Regions from separate parts of the Homo sapiens genome. Here region 2 is linked to region 1. The links come from fine-mapping of genetic effects on gene expression. Tissue or cell type: whole blood. Region 1 holds a variant in brackets; the other region holds the start of a gene. All regions are shown on one strand. Distances are between the middles of the regions.

Region 1 (5,799 bases):
CCTTTGGCATAATAAATTTGGAAGGTCCTAAATTTTTATTTTCTTTTTACATAGCTCTCTTCAACTATCAGACTTTTATTTATTCATTTATTTTAGAGAGAGGGTCTTCCTCTGTCGCTCAGGCTGGAGTGCAGTGGTGCAAGTATAGCTCACTACAGCCTACGGTTCCTGGGCTTAAGCAGTGTTTCCACCTCAGTTCCTAAATAGCTAGAACTACAGGCATGCGCCACCATGCCTGGCTAACTTTTTTTTTTTTTTTTTTTTCTGTCGTAGAGACAGGGCCTTGTTCTGTTGCTCAGGGGGGCCTTAAACTCCTGGCCTCAAGTAATCTTCCCACTTTATCCTTCCAAAGTGATGGGATTACAGGGATGAACCTTGTGCTTGGCTCAGCTATCAGATTTTAAACCTTTCTTTACTTGGAAAATTAAAGACAGATATTTGTTTTTCAGTTAGCCAAGGAGCAACCTTGAAATACAATATCCTTTTATTAAACTTCTTTTGAGGGGGAAAGTAAGTTATAATTTTTTTATTAGAAAATAAATATACTGGGCCAGGCATGGTGGCTCATACCTGTAATCCCAGCCCTTTGGGAGGCCCAGGTGCACGGATCACTTGAGGTCAGGAGTTCGAGATCAGCCTGGCCAACATAAAATCCTGTCTCTACTAAAACTACAAAAATTAGCCCAGCATGGTTTTGCATGCCTGTAATCCCAACTACTGGAGAGGCTGCGGCAGGAGAATCGTTTGAACCTAGGAGGTAGAGGTTGCAGTGAGCCAAGATCATACCACTGCACTCCACCCTGGGCGACAGAGTGAATGAGACTCTGTCTCAAAAAAAAAGAAATGTGAACAACTAGATCAAAAGAGATACCCAGATACTTCATCCCCTCCCTAAAATAGTTGTAGAGCAATAGGAAAACAAAAGGTACATAAATTTTTCATTTTCTGACTTTTATAGAGCCTTTAAGAATTATGTGATTTCTCTATAAAATGCATGCAGAAGTAGGGATACTCAATGTCCACCTTAAAGATTGGTTAAGCTTCAAATCAAGTTCAGGCCAAACTAGAGTTTCTACAGTAGAAATCTTTTCTGTCCTCAGTATTTTATCCTAGTTTATTCATATTTTTGAAAATATTGACACTTAATCTTTTGCCTCAATCTTGAAACCTTACTATGTTTGCAAATTTTAGGGATCCATATGGGCAGACTCTAGTCAATGAACATATTACTTGGGTACTTATAGCAAATGGTTTTTAACTTGGTATATTTGTTGCTCACATTATTTTTTTGTGTAGATCCTATGCCTGTGACTCAGAAGGAACAGGAAAACAAATCCAATGCATTTCCCTCTACATCATGTGAAAACTCCTTTCCAGAAGACTGTACATTTCTGTATGTATATAAATTCTTTGTTATTAATGCTTTTGCTCCTACAGATTTCTTCTTTATAAATCACTTGACATTAGAATAGATGAAATATACAAAAAAATTTTTCCCATTAAAGCTTTAAAAGTTGTATATTTTAGTATTTTATGTAAGATAGAATTTCATGAGTCTCTGAATAGGTTATTGAATATTCCTAGTTAATCAAGTCTTTTTATAAAGTTTAGCTTAAGATGTCTTTGTGTATTTTATTAATACACTGAAATCTACCAAGTAGTGTGTTTTTGTTTTGTTTTGTTTTTTGTTTTACTGCTTAGATTATCTGGAGAATTTAAAAGTGTCAAAATGTTTCTTTCAGTATCAGTTGAGTTTTCAAAATGCGTAACAGCTCTTAAGTAGTGTCTAAAAGTTTATGGGAATAGACTAAATTTTTCTGACCTTCCCTTTCTCATTTTATCATTACTTTCCATAAAGATTCTTTGGCATAAAGGAGATGTGCGGAAGAGTGAATCTAGATACTCTGACACGTAGTCTTTATTTTTAGTAGGTAATACCTGGGCCTAACCCTTCAAGTACTAATTACAGGGAAGTTTCTGAAAGTTCTCTAGAGTAGAGAACATAGTTTCAAAAAACAAAGAAGTATCTTTAGAAAGAAACTTCTTTGTTACCCTAATTTCATTTGTTCTTTCAGCTTAATATTAAATTGACTAAGAAAAACTATATAATTATTTTTTTGATTTTCATGCCTGTGAGAGTTGTAGATAGACACTGTTTCATATAATTTGGATTTACAAATATTAGAGATGTCATTGCAGTTTGAGTGGGTCTCAAAAGGCCCATAAAATTACTTTAAAATGCTCACAGAGAAAGCTAAGTTCACACTTTAGCTCCTTAATTGGCCATTTCAGTGGCTCACAAAACATTTTTTTTTCTAGAAATTCTGACCTTTGAATATACAGTGTAAAATTTTGTAAGTTTTTAGGAACAAATTCACTCAGTCTAAATCTAAATTAAATTTTCATGTAAATTACCACCAAACAAGCTCTCTACCAAACAGTTATCTATATATTTAGATATTATATTTTAAACTTAAATGCAGGAGTGGTTTATTCCTGTGAAGTATCATTTTTTGCTTTAAGTTCATTATACCAGCTTATCAGAATCTTTTTGAATTTTGGAATATTTTTTGTCCCTTTTAGCTTATCATCTTGTACAAATAAATAAGCTTTCTAATCTTCATTATGGTCACTGAAAACAATATTGAACAGGACATGACCAAAGATAAAAACCTTGTGGCTGGCTCACTACTAGACATTCTTTTTATTACGCTTCAGAAAGAACGCTTTAAGCAACTGTGAATTTACTTCTACTGTTGTCCCGCCTACACTTCTCACTTACAAAGTGGTCATGAAAAATCAAGGTTCACTGCCATAGCATTCTGTGGCATTGCCAGACATTATTCAGACTTATTGAAAACGTTGTCAAAAAAGAAAATTCAGTTAATTTGGATTTTTCTCACCTACTTGTTAACTCAGCACCTAGTGTTGGTTGGCCTTTTAAATTCAAAATATTTAGAAGCCACACCCTTGATGCCTTCTTCTAGAGATTTTTAAGAGACCAGTGTTAAGCTAACCTTTCTATATTTTCTGTAGCCTGTCCTCCTTCCCTTTTTAAAAATCAGGGCAGCTAGAACTTGAGGATAAGTGGTCAAAGAAAAAATCAGGGCAGTATT[A/G]TTTTATTTTTAATTTTTCTATATTTGAAGTTTTTTTTTCCAGACCTTGAGATTTAATTTGTAGAGTCTTCTATATGCTTAAATAAACTTGAGTTCTAGTACCCTCTCTTTAACTGTCACAGACTTCAGTTTCTTTTTATTTTTTTCCTCTTGTTTCCAACTTGAGAGCCATACTTAAAGATGGAAAAGACAAAGGCAGAATTGTTTTTGAGAAACTCTTCCTTCTCTTTGTTATCAGTTAACCTTATTTTTCTCCTAACAGATTATTTTCTTGTTCTAAGCATAGCTTTAGTTGTTTTTTGTTGTTGTTATTTTATTAGCACTTTTGGAAACCTCGGTTCTTACTAGGCTTTGTGATACTTTTCTTACAGTTTCGTACCAATGTTGCGTATTCATAATTAGCTGTCTTCTTTTGTATGTATACTTTTAAAAATCCGAGCTTCCAAGAAAAATTGAGTTGGTTTCTTTAACTGTTTTCCCATCTCTTTAGGACTGTTTATGATTATATAATCAGAATTTCATTTCCTTAATCTCCCATCTCTCTTGTACTGTGTTGACACTCAGAGGCTTTTTTTGAGATTATACCTAACTTTTGAGTTGAGCATTCTGAGATCTTTTCAGATGAAGGGACATGTCTTATTAGGCTTAGGATTTTCTTCCTTTGCCATTAAGAATTCCAAGGAAGCATTTCATTCTTGACTGGAATTATGTTTAAATAATTCCTTTTATATTTCCTCTGCAGGCCAGAAGTTTATTTGCTTATTTTATTTTCAGTACTTAAACCCTCTTAGCAGCCCAGTGGTCACATAGGTTGCCTAGTAAACTAAACATTCAATAACTTAAGCCAGGAATTCTTAGCCCCAGCTAAACTGCTCAAGATTAGGCTGAGCATGGTGGCTCACACCTGTAATCCCAGCACTTCGGGAGGTTGAGGCAGGAGGATCACTTGAGCCCAAAATTTCAAGACTAGCCTGGGCAACATGGCAAAACCCCATCTCTACAAAAAGTAACAAAAATTAGCCGGGCTTGGTGGCACATGCCTGTGGTCCCAGCTACTTGGGAGGCTGAGGTGTATCACCTAAGTCCAGAAGATCAAGGCTGCAGCAAGCCATGATCGCGCCTCCGCACTCTAGCTTGGGTGACAGAGTGAGACCCTATTTCAAAAAAAGATTATACAAACTATCAACGGCAAACCCCAGGATGAAATCTTGGGTCTAATAGGACACAGGCTTCAGGCTTTTGGTGTTTTTTTGTGGGGTTTTTTTGTTTTCTTTCTTTCTTTCTTTTTTTTTTTTTTTTTTGAGACAGCAGGGTCTCACTGTCTCGCTGGGTGGACTGCAGTGGCACATAGCCACAGCTCACTGTAGGCTTGACGCCCTAAGCTCAAGCGATCCTTCCTCCTCAGACTCTCAAGTAGCTAGGACTACAGGTGCATACCACCACACCTGGCTAATTTTTAACATTTTTTTTTTTTGTAGCGATGTGGTCTCACTATGTTGCCCAGGCAGGTCGTGAACTCCTAGTCTCAAGCAGTCCTCCCTCCTCAGCTTCCCAAAGTGCTGGGATTACAGGCATGAGCCACCACACCCAGCCAGTATTCTATTCTTGAGTTGAACTGAATTTCTACTCCACATAAGTGAGTTATGACATAGGTAAATGTAAAAACAAAAGTATTACTTCAGTGATAATTCTTTTAAAAGGATATTTACTTTTGTGATTTTAGAAGTCTGAATTCCCTTTTTTTTTTTTTTTTTGGTCAAGTATAAACTTTGGTTTGTCAGGAGTACATACCTATTCAAGCTAGCTTAAGTAGTGGAATTTATTAGAAGTGTACGAGGTGTGCAGCTTTGGTTAGCATACTGGGTGACACTGGGCTTGCACCACTGCTTAAAGACACAGGTGTAAATTTAAGCCATTAAATTTTTATGGCTTTTTACATGACATGCACACAAACCCAAAAGATTATTTTTAAAAACATGCACACACATGTACCTACACATACATACACACATATATAAATAAAATAGGTCTTGAAGAACAGAAAATGTAACACAGCAGGCCATGTAAACACTAAAATAGGAACTTAAAAGTCAATACCTAAGGTCAGGGTTGACACAGTCTCAACTCTACTTCTCTCTGTTACCAGTAGGTTTCTTCTCTTCCCACATGACCAAACATAGCTGCCCCAGCTAAACTCTAACCTTCTAGTGCAAGTGTTATCTCATGTGACATATATATATATATATATATATTTTTTTTTTTTTTTAAATAGAGACAGGGTCTAGTCATGTTGCCCAGGCTGATCTTGATCTCCTGGGCTCAATGAATCCTCCCACCTCGGCCTGCCACAGTGCTGGGATTACAGGCATGAGCCACCGCACCCAACCATTTTTTTTAATATCTTAATTTAAATTATTGAAAGAGACAGTATAAAAAGCCCAGTATGTATACAAGACCCAACATCTTTGAGTACACTGAAATTAATATACCTGCCTTTCAGAAGAGGATGACTAAAGAAGGGACTGAGCAAAATACCAGATTTACCTACTGCAGTCTTTAGATGAATACAGTATACATTCTTGTTTTAAAATATGCCCCCTTAATGGTCATAGAGGATAGAATGACTTCTTACTTTAGCCTTGCCAAAAGCTAGATAATCAGTTGGCAGCCTCTAAGCCATGCT
Region 2 (5,799 bases), 26 kb before region 1:
AGTTCTTTCTCCATTGCTTCCTTTTGTCAATTTTGTTGACCAGATGGCTGTGGGTGTACAGCTTAATTTCTGGGCTCTCTATTCTGCTCCATTGGCCTATATGTCTGTTTTTGTACCAGTACCATGCTTTTTTGGTTACTGTAGCCTCAAAGTATAATTTGAAACAAGCTACACATTCAGTAGCACTGAATGTGTAGCTTGTTTTGGGCAGTATGGCGATTCTAATGATATTGATTCTTCCAATCCATGAGCATGGAGTGTTTTTCCATTTGTTTGTGTCATCAATGATTTCTTTCAGCAGTGTCTTGTAGTTCTTGTAGAGATCTTTCACTTCCTTGGTTAGAGGTATTCCTAGGCAGTGTGTGTGTGTGTGTGTGTGTGTGTGTGTGTGTGTGTGTGTGTATGGCTATCGTAAACAGGACTGCATTCTTGATTTGGCTCTCTGCTCCAACATTATTGGTATAGAAACGCTACTGATTTTTGTACAGAGTTTGTATCCTGAAACTTACTGAAGTTATCAGTTCCAAGAGCCTTTGGTGGAGTCTTTAGGGTTTTCTAGGTATACAATCAGATCATCAGCCAAGAGAGATAGTCTGACTTCTTTTCCTATGTGGATGCCTTTTGTTTCTCTTGCCTGATTGCTCTGGCTAGAACTTCCTACGTATCTCATGTCTGAGCTCTTATTTCTGAATTTATGTGGTTCTTTCAAAGATTTCATCTTTTCCTTAAATTCTCTTAGCTTACTCTGAAATATTTAGATTGTCATTTTCATCTGCTTTGTGGCCACATTTTTGGGGTATGTTTTCATAATCTCGTGCAATGTTTTATGGCTTATTTTGATGATTTTCTTATAATGATTTAGTGTATATATATATATATATATATATTCCCTTTTCCCATATATTTATATAACTATATACTAAAAGGAGGTTCCCGGCTAGGTACAGTGGCTTATGCCTATAATGCTAGCACTTCGGGAAGCCAAAGCAGGAGGATCACTGGAGTCCAGGAGTTTGAGACCAGCCTGGGCAACATAGCAAGATGCCATCTCTCCAAAAAATTAGCCAGGCATGGTGGCACATATCTATAGTCCCAGCTACTCTTGAGGCTGAGGAGGGAGGTTCACTTGAGCCTGGGGGGTCAAGGCTGCAGTAAGCTGTGATCATGCCACTGTATTCCAGCCTGGGCAACATAGCGAGATCCCATCTCTAAAGAAAATAAAAAGGAGGTTCCTATGTTACACTGTATGGACATGCTGGAGTTTAAAAAAATCTATTTCCTAGTGGAATCTGGTTGTTTCCAGTTTTGGCCATTACAAATAAAATCGCTATAAATATTTGCAGAGCAGCCAATATAGGTTTTCATTTCACTTTTCATCAGAGAAGCATACAATCATCAAAGGGGAAATTAAAACCACAATGAGATACCCCATCATACCTCATATAAAGGCTAAATATTTTAACTGATAATGCCAAGTGCTGACAAGGATGAAAAACTACTGGAACTCTCTTATCTTGGTGGTAAATTTCAATCTAGAGTGGGCTTGCCAGATCATGTGATAAGGATATGATTAATTTTATAATAAACTGTCAAATTGTCTTCTAGGTGGCTGTACTATTTGCAGTCTCACCAGCAAGACTAAGGTTTCTCCTTGTTTTGCATCCTTGCCAGGAAATGTATTGTTTGTTTTGACATTCTGAGTAAGAGGTTGTGTAGTATCTCACTGTGGTTTTAATTTGCATTTTTCCAATGACGGTGGTTTTAATTTGCATTTTCCCAATGACTATTCTATACTTCTTTCATTTAACACAAAATGGTAACCACTTTCCTATGTCATTCAACAGCCTATGCCACTACTCTTTGAAAACGTTCCTTTTAAAAGGCTGAAAAATATAATGATGGGATGTGTCATAATTTATAAAACCATTCTTCTACCATTAGATATTTGTTATTTCCAATTTTTCACAAGAACAAAATTACACTGTGATTATAAAGCTTTGATTCTATCTCTATTTCCTTACAAGTTTCTTAGAAAAGGTCAAAAGGTATATGAACTTTTGTTTCTCCATGCATTTTGACAAGCCAACTGGAAGATACAAGTCAAGTGGAAGATACAAGCATGGAATCAAGTAATTAAGAAAAATGATTCTCAGGCCAGGTGCCGTGGCTCACACCTGTAATCCCAGCACTTTGGGAGGTGGAGGCGGGCAGATCATCTAAAGTCAGGAGTTCAAGACCAGCCTGGCCAACATGGTGAAACCCCATCTCTACTAAAAATACAAAAATTAGCTGGGCGTGATGGCCGGTGTCTGTAGTCCCAGCTACTCAGGAGGCTGAGGCAGGAGAATCGCTTGAACCACGGAGGCAGAGTTGCAGTGAGCCGAGATTGCACCATTGCACTCCAGCATAGGCGACAAGAGACTCCATCTCAAAAAAAAAAAAAAAAAAAAAAAAAAAAAAAACATCAATTATTTTGCTGTTTGTTTTGTTTTTTGGTATTCCTGATGCGAGATGTCTTTATCATGTATTGTTGATTAGGTTGTTCATCAGTTAATCTTGAATAACTGAAATCTAAGCTGAAGGCAATAATACATCGGCTTTCTTTTCATGCAAGTCAAACTGCTAAAATCTACCACAAAATATTAGCCTTTCATCAGCTTGGTCTTCAGATCCAATACATTTTCCCCTCAAATGAAAGACAATGCAATGCCATCCACAACAATGCTAAAAAAAAAAAAAAAAAAGGAGGAGGGAAACAAGGTTAAGTCCTGTCTTCTTCCTCCTACCCCAAAAAGAGCTCAGAAATTAAGGTGCTTTCCCTAACAAAGCCTCCTCCTGCTCCATGAAGTGACCAAGCATGTCATGGCAGACCCAGAGATTTATAATCTTCAACATATCGTTATCGGGGAAATCAAGATTTGACAAAATTCTTCCTTCACGCCCCGTTTCTGCAAGACCACCACTTTCTAGCTTAAAATAAAGAAAAAAAAAAGACAGCTGCAGGAATGCTTGGCTGCCCGCTAATGTACAATTTTGCCCAAACGCAGAACTTGACGCCCACTATTACCAAAGGATGGCCTTAGTAAAGTAACCCCCGCGAAGAGCAAACTGTTTAGCAGCCGCTCCCTCGAAAAGGACGGAAGAGGAGGTCTCTTCTGAACCTGAGGATAGTAGAGAGGCACTCCCCTTCCACTACTAGCTTTGCTCCTTTCTCAATCAGGCAGTTCATCAGCTAGCCTCCTTTGTCAAAGGGGGTTGATGGTCAGAATCTTTGCGAGACAAAAATTACTAAAAGAGCTCCCAGGAACCAATGTTAAGGCATCAAAGGCCCCGCCCAGCCCCCACAATGATCAACAAACCAAAACCTGGGATCCCTACTATTACCACCACCACAACCATCACCACCACCACCACCACCATTCCTCGCTCTCTCTAGCCAGGGATGAGACTCAGGCCCAGGAAACCCATCCTTTCCGCAAGTAGGAAGGCGCTGGGTCTCCTCCCTTAGGCCTCTCCTTTACCCCATTGTTCTCTCCGGACCCCTCCACTACGGCCAGGCGCTATGTATGTTTTCAACCCCCAAGAAGCCCAGTCCCAGCCACACACAAGATGGCAGCCTCACACCTACCGGAGGAAACAGCTGCGCCACCACTCCAGTGATGCCGGCCTCTCGACTACGAGTAACTCCATTGGCTCAGCTACAGTGCGCGAGACAAGCCGAGAGCGCTAGCAGTCAATCGGGAGGCGGCGCGCTCGGGCGCCACTGCGGTGCCAGCGGTAAGTGCGCCGAGTCTCTGAGGCGTGAACCAGTGGGGAGTGCGACCAATCAATGGGCTCCTGGCTGGGTGGTGGGACGGCCGGCGTCCGACTCCTCCCATGTAGTGATCGGTTTAGGTAGGTCGGCCTGGTCCCCGGCGGAGGTTACGCCTTCCCTCATCCCCGGTAGAGGCAGGGCGGGACTGTTGTGGTTGAGATGAAGGCTAGTAAATGGTGAAGTACTTCCCGGCCAGAGGGCACCTGCGCTCGGGAGGTTTGGGCGGCTTGGCGTCGGAGGAGAGCCCCACCCGCGGAGGAACCCAGCCTTGCCAACGGAGCTGGCGGAGCTCACTCCTCAGGTCAGGCGGGCGGCGTAGAAAACGCAGCGGAGCCAGGTGAAACCAAGGCACCGCCGTGGCTGGCCCCCGACAGTTCCTCTAGCCGGGAGGTTGGAGGAGCTGAAAACGCCGCGGAGCCCTCGGCCGCCCGAGCAGGGGCTGGACCCCAGCCCTTGCAGCCTCCCTTCTCCTGGCACCCAAGTGCAGTCCTGGCTGCAGAAGGGGCCGCGGGCGCACTGAGTTTCCAACCTCCATTTCAGCCTGTCTGTCTCAGGGTGCAGCCTTAATGAGAGGTGATTCCTAAGCTGCTGGGAACCTGAGGTTGTCAAAGGGGCGGCAGGAAATGGACAGCAGTATAAAACCCAGAAGCAGAACTTGAAGGTTAAACCACTAGCCCATTTCACAGGTAAGATTACACGAGCCCTTAAATACAGCAAGTTCAGTCATTCATCCAAGATCATGGAGTTCAGATTAGATAGTAACACTTCTGACTCGCTATCAGCCACAGCCCAATAAGTAATTAAGTAAGGAAAGATATGTAATTAACTGTGCTCTTTGGCATGTGGAAACCTGCAGTGAGCTCTGTAAATACTAACACATGAGGCCAAGGAGAGGAGTAAATTTGAAGAGGTCAAATGGAGTAACCAAAGCATAGGCTCTGAAACCATGCTGCCTGGTTCCTTATTTCGTGTCTGCCACTTACGGTATGGCATTCCTTAGCTTCCTCATCAGCAAACGAGCTGCTAATTTAACCCACATGACTGTTAGGGGGATTAAATAAGAACACGTGAAGTAGTTAGAAGCGTGACTAACCCGTGGTTCTTAAGCGTGACTTAACCCGTGGTTCTGTCGTTACAATTAAAACGTAAGGAGCCGAGAGGAAATGGTAAACGTGTTTTTAAAGCCTGTTTTAGAAACGAAAAGGAACCATACATTGAAGCAAAGCAGACTGGCTTAATTATTTTTCTACCAAAATGAAAAAGTGAGAAGGGGAAAAAAGTTTTTTAAGCCCATTTACTCTCTGAAATATTAACACCAGTTGTCTCTGGATGATGGGATGGTGTTTAAATTTTCTCCTTTATGCTTTATTGTATTTTGCAGATTTTCTCCAGGAAACATGTTTTACTTGTGCACGTTCAGTTTTCAAATTTTCAGGTGTGAACGCTGGTGAGAGCTGCTTAAAAACAAAGCTATGGGCCGGGCGCGGTGGCTCACACCTGTAATCCCCACACTTTGGGAGGCTGAGGCGGGCGGATCACCTGAGGTCAGGAGTTCAAGACCAGCCTGGCCAACGTGGTGAAACCCCGTCTCCACTAAAAACACAAAAATTAGCCGGGCGTGTGGTGGCGGGCCCCTGTAATCCCAGCTTCTCGGGAGGCTGAGGCAGGAGAATCGCTTGAACCCGGGAGGCAGAGGCTGCAGTGAGCCGAGATCACGCCACTGCACCCTTCTCACTGCACTGGTGACAGAGCGAGACTCCGTCTCAAAAAAAAAAAAAAAATCTATGGCCGTGCGCGGTGGGTGGCTCACATCTATAATCCCAGCACTTTGGCAGATCACTTGAGCCCAGAGTTCAAGACCAACCTGGGCAACATAGACCTCATGTCTAAAAAAAAATAAAACTATTACTGAGTGTGCTTAGGTGGAAGTATAAATTGGTAGAACCTTTCTGGAAGAGAGTTTGACAATATGCTATAAAAAGCTT

The links. PIP is the estimated chance that this variant, and not a neighbour inherited with it, causes the effect.
Region 2: CAB39L starts here. The variant in region 1 is fine-mapped to the expression of CAB39L in whole blood (INTERVAL, PIP above 0.99).

Annotation. Positions count from the first base shown.
Region 1 is chr13:49,466,568-49,472,366 of GRCh38, forward strand. SETDB2-PHF11 (SETDB2-PHF11 readthrough) reads left to right here. Exons shown (of 21, transcript NR_135324.2): 5 at 1,297-1,393. SETDB2 (SET domain bifurcated histone lysine methyltransferase 2) reads left to right here. Exons shown (of 14, transcript NM_001160308.3): 5 at 1,297-1,393. Among named protein-coding and RNA genes, the nearest start is that of SETDB2-PHF11, 25 kb to the left of the region's middle. The variant A/G (reference allele first, on the strand shown) is at 3,117.
Region 2 is chr13:49,440,358-49,446,156 of GRCh38, forward strand. It overlaps CAB39L (calcium binding protein 39 like), which reads right to left and starts at 3,707. Exons shown (of 11, transcript NM_001079670.3): 1 at 3,629-3,707. SETDB2-PHF11 (SETDB2-PHF11 readthrough) reads left to right here and starts at 3,917. Exons shown (of 21, transcript NR_135324.2): 1 at 3,917-4,500. It overlaps SETDB2 (SET domain bifurcated histone lysine methyltransferase 2), which reads left to right and starts at 3,917. Exons shown (of 14, transcript NM_001160308.3): 1 at 3,917-4,500. RefSeq lists enhancers at 3,085-3,154, 3,524-4,296, 3,535-3,614, 4,297-5,070 and silencers at 3,623-4,103, 3,775-3,824.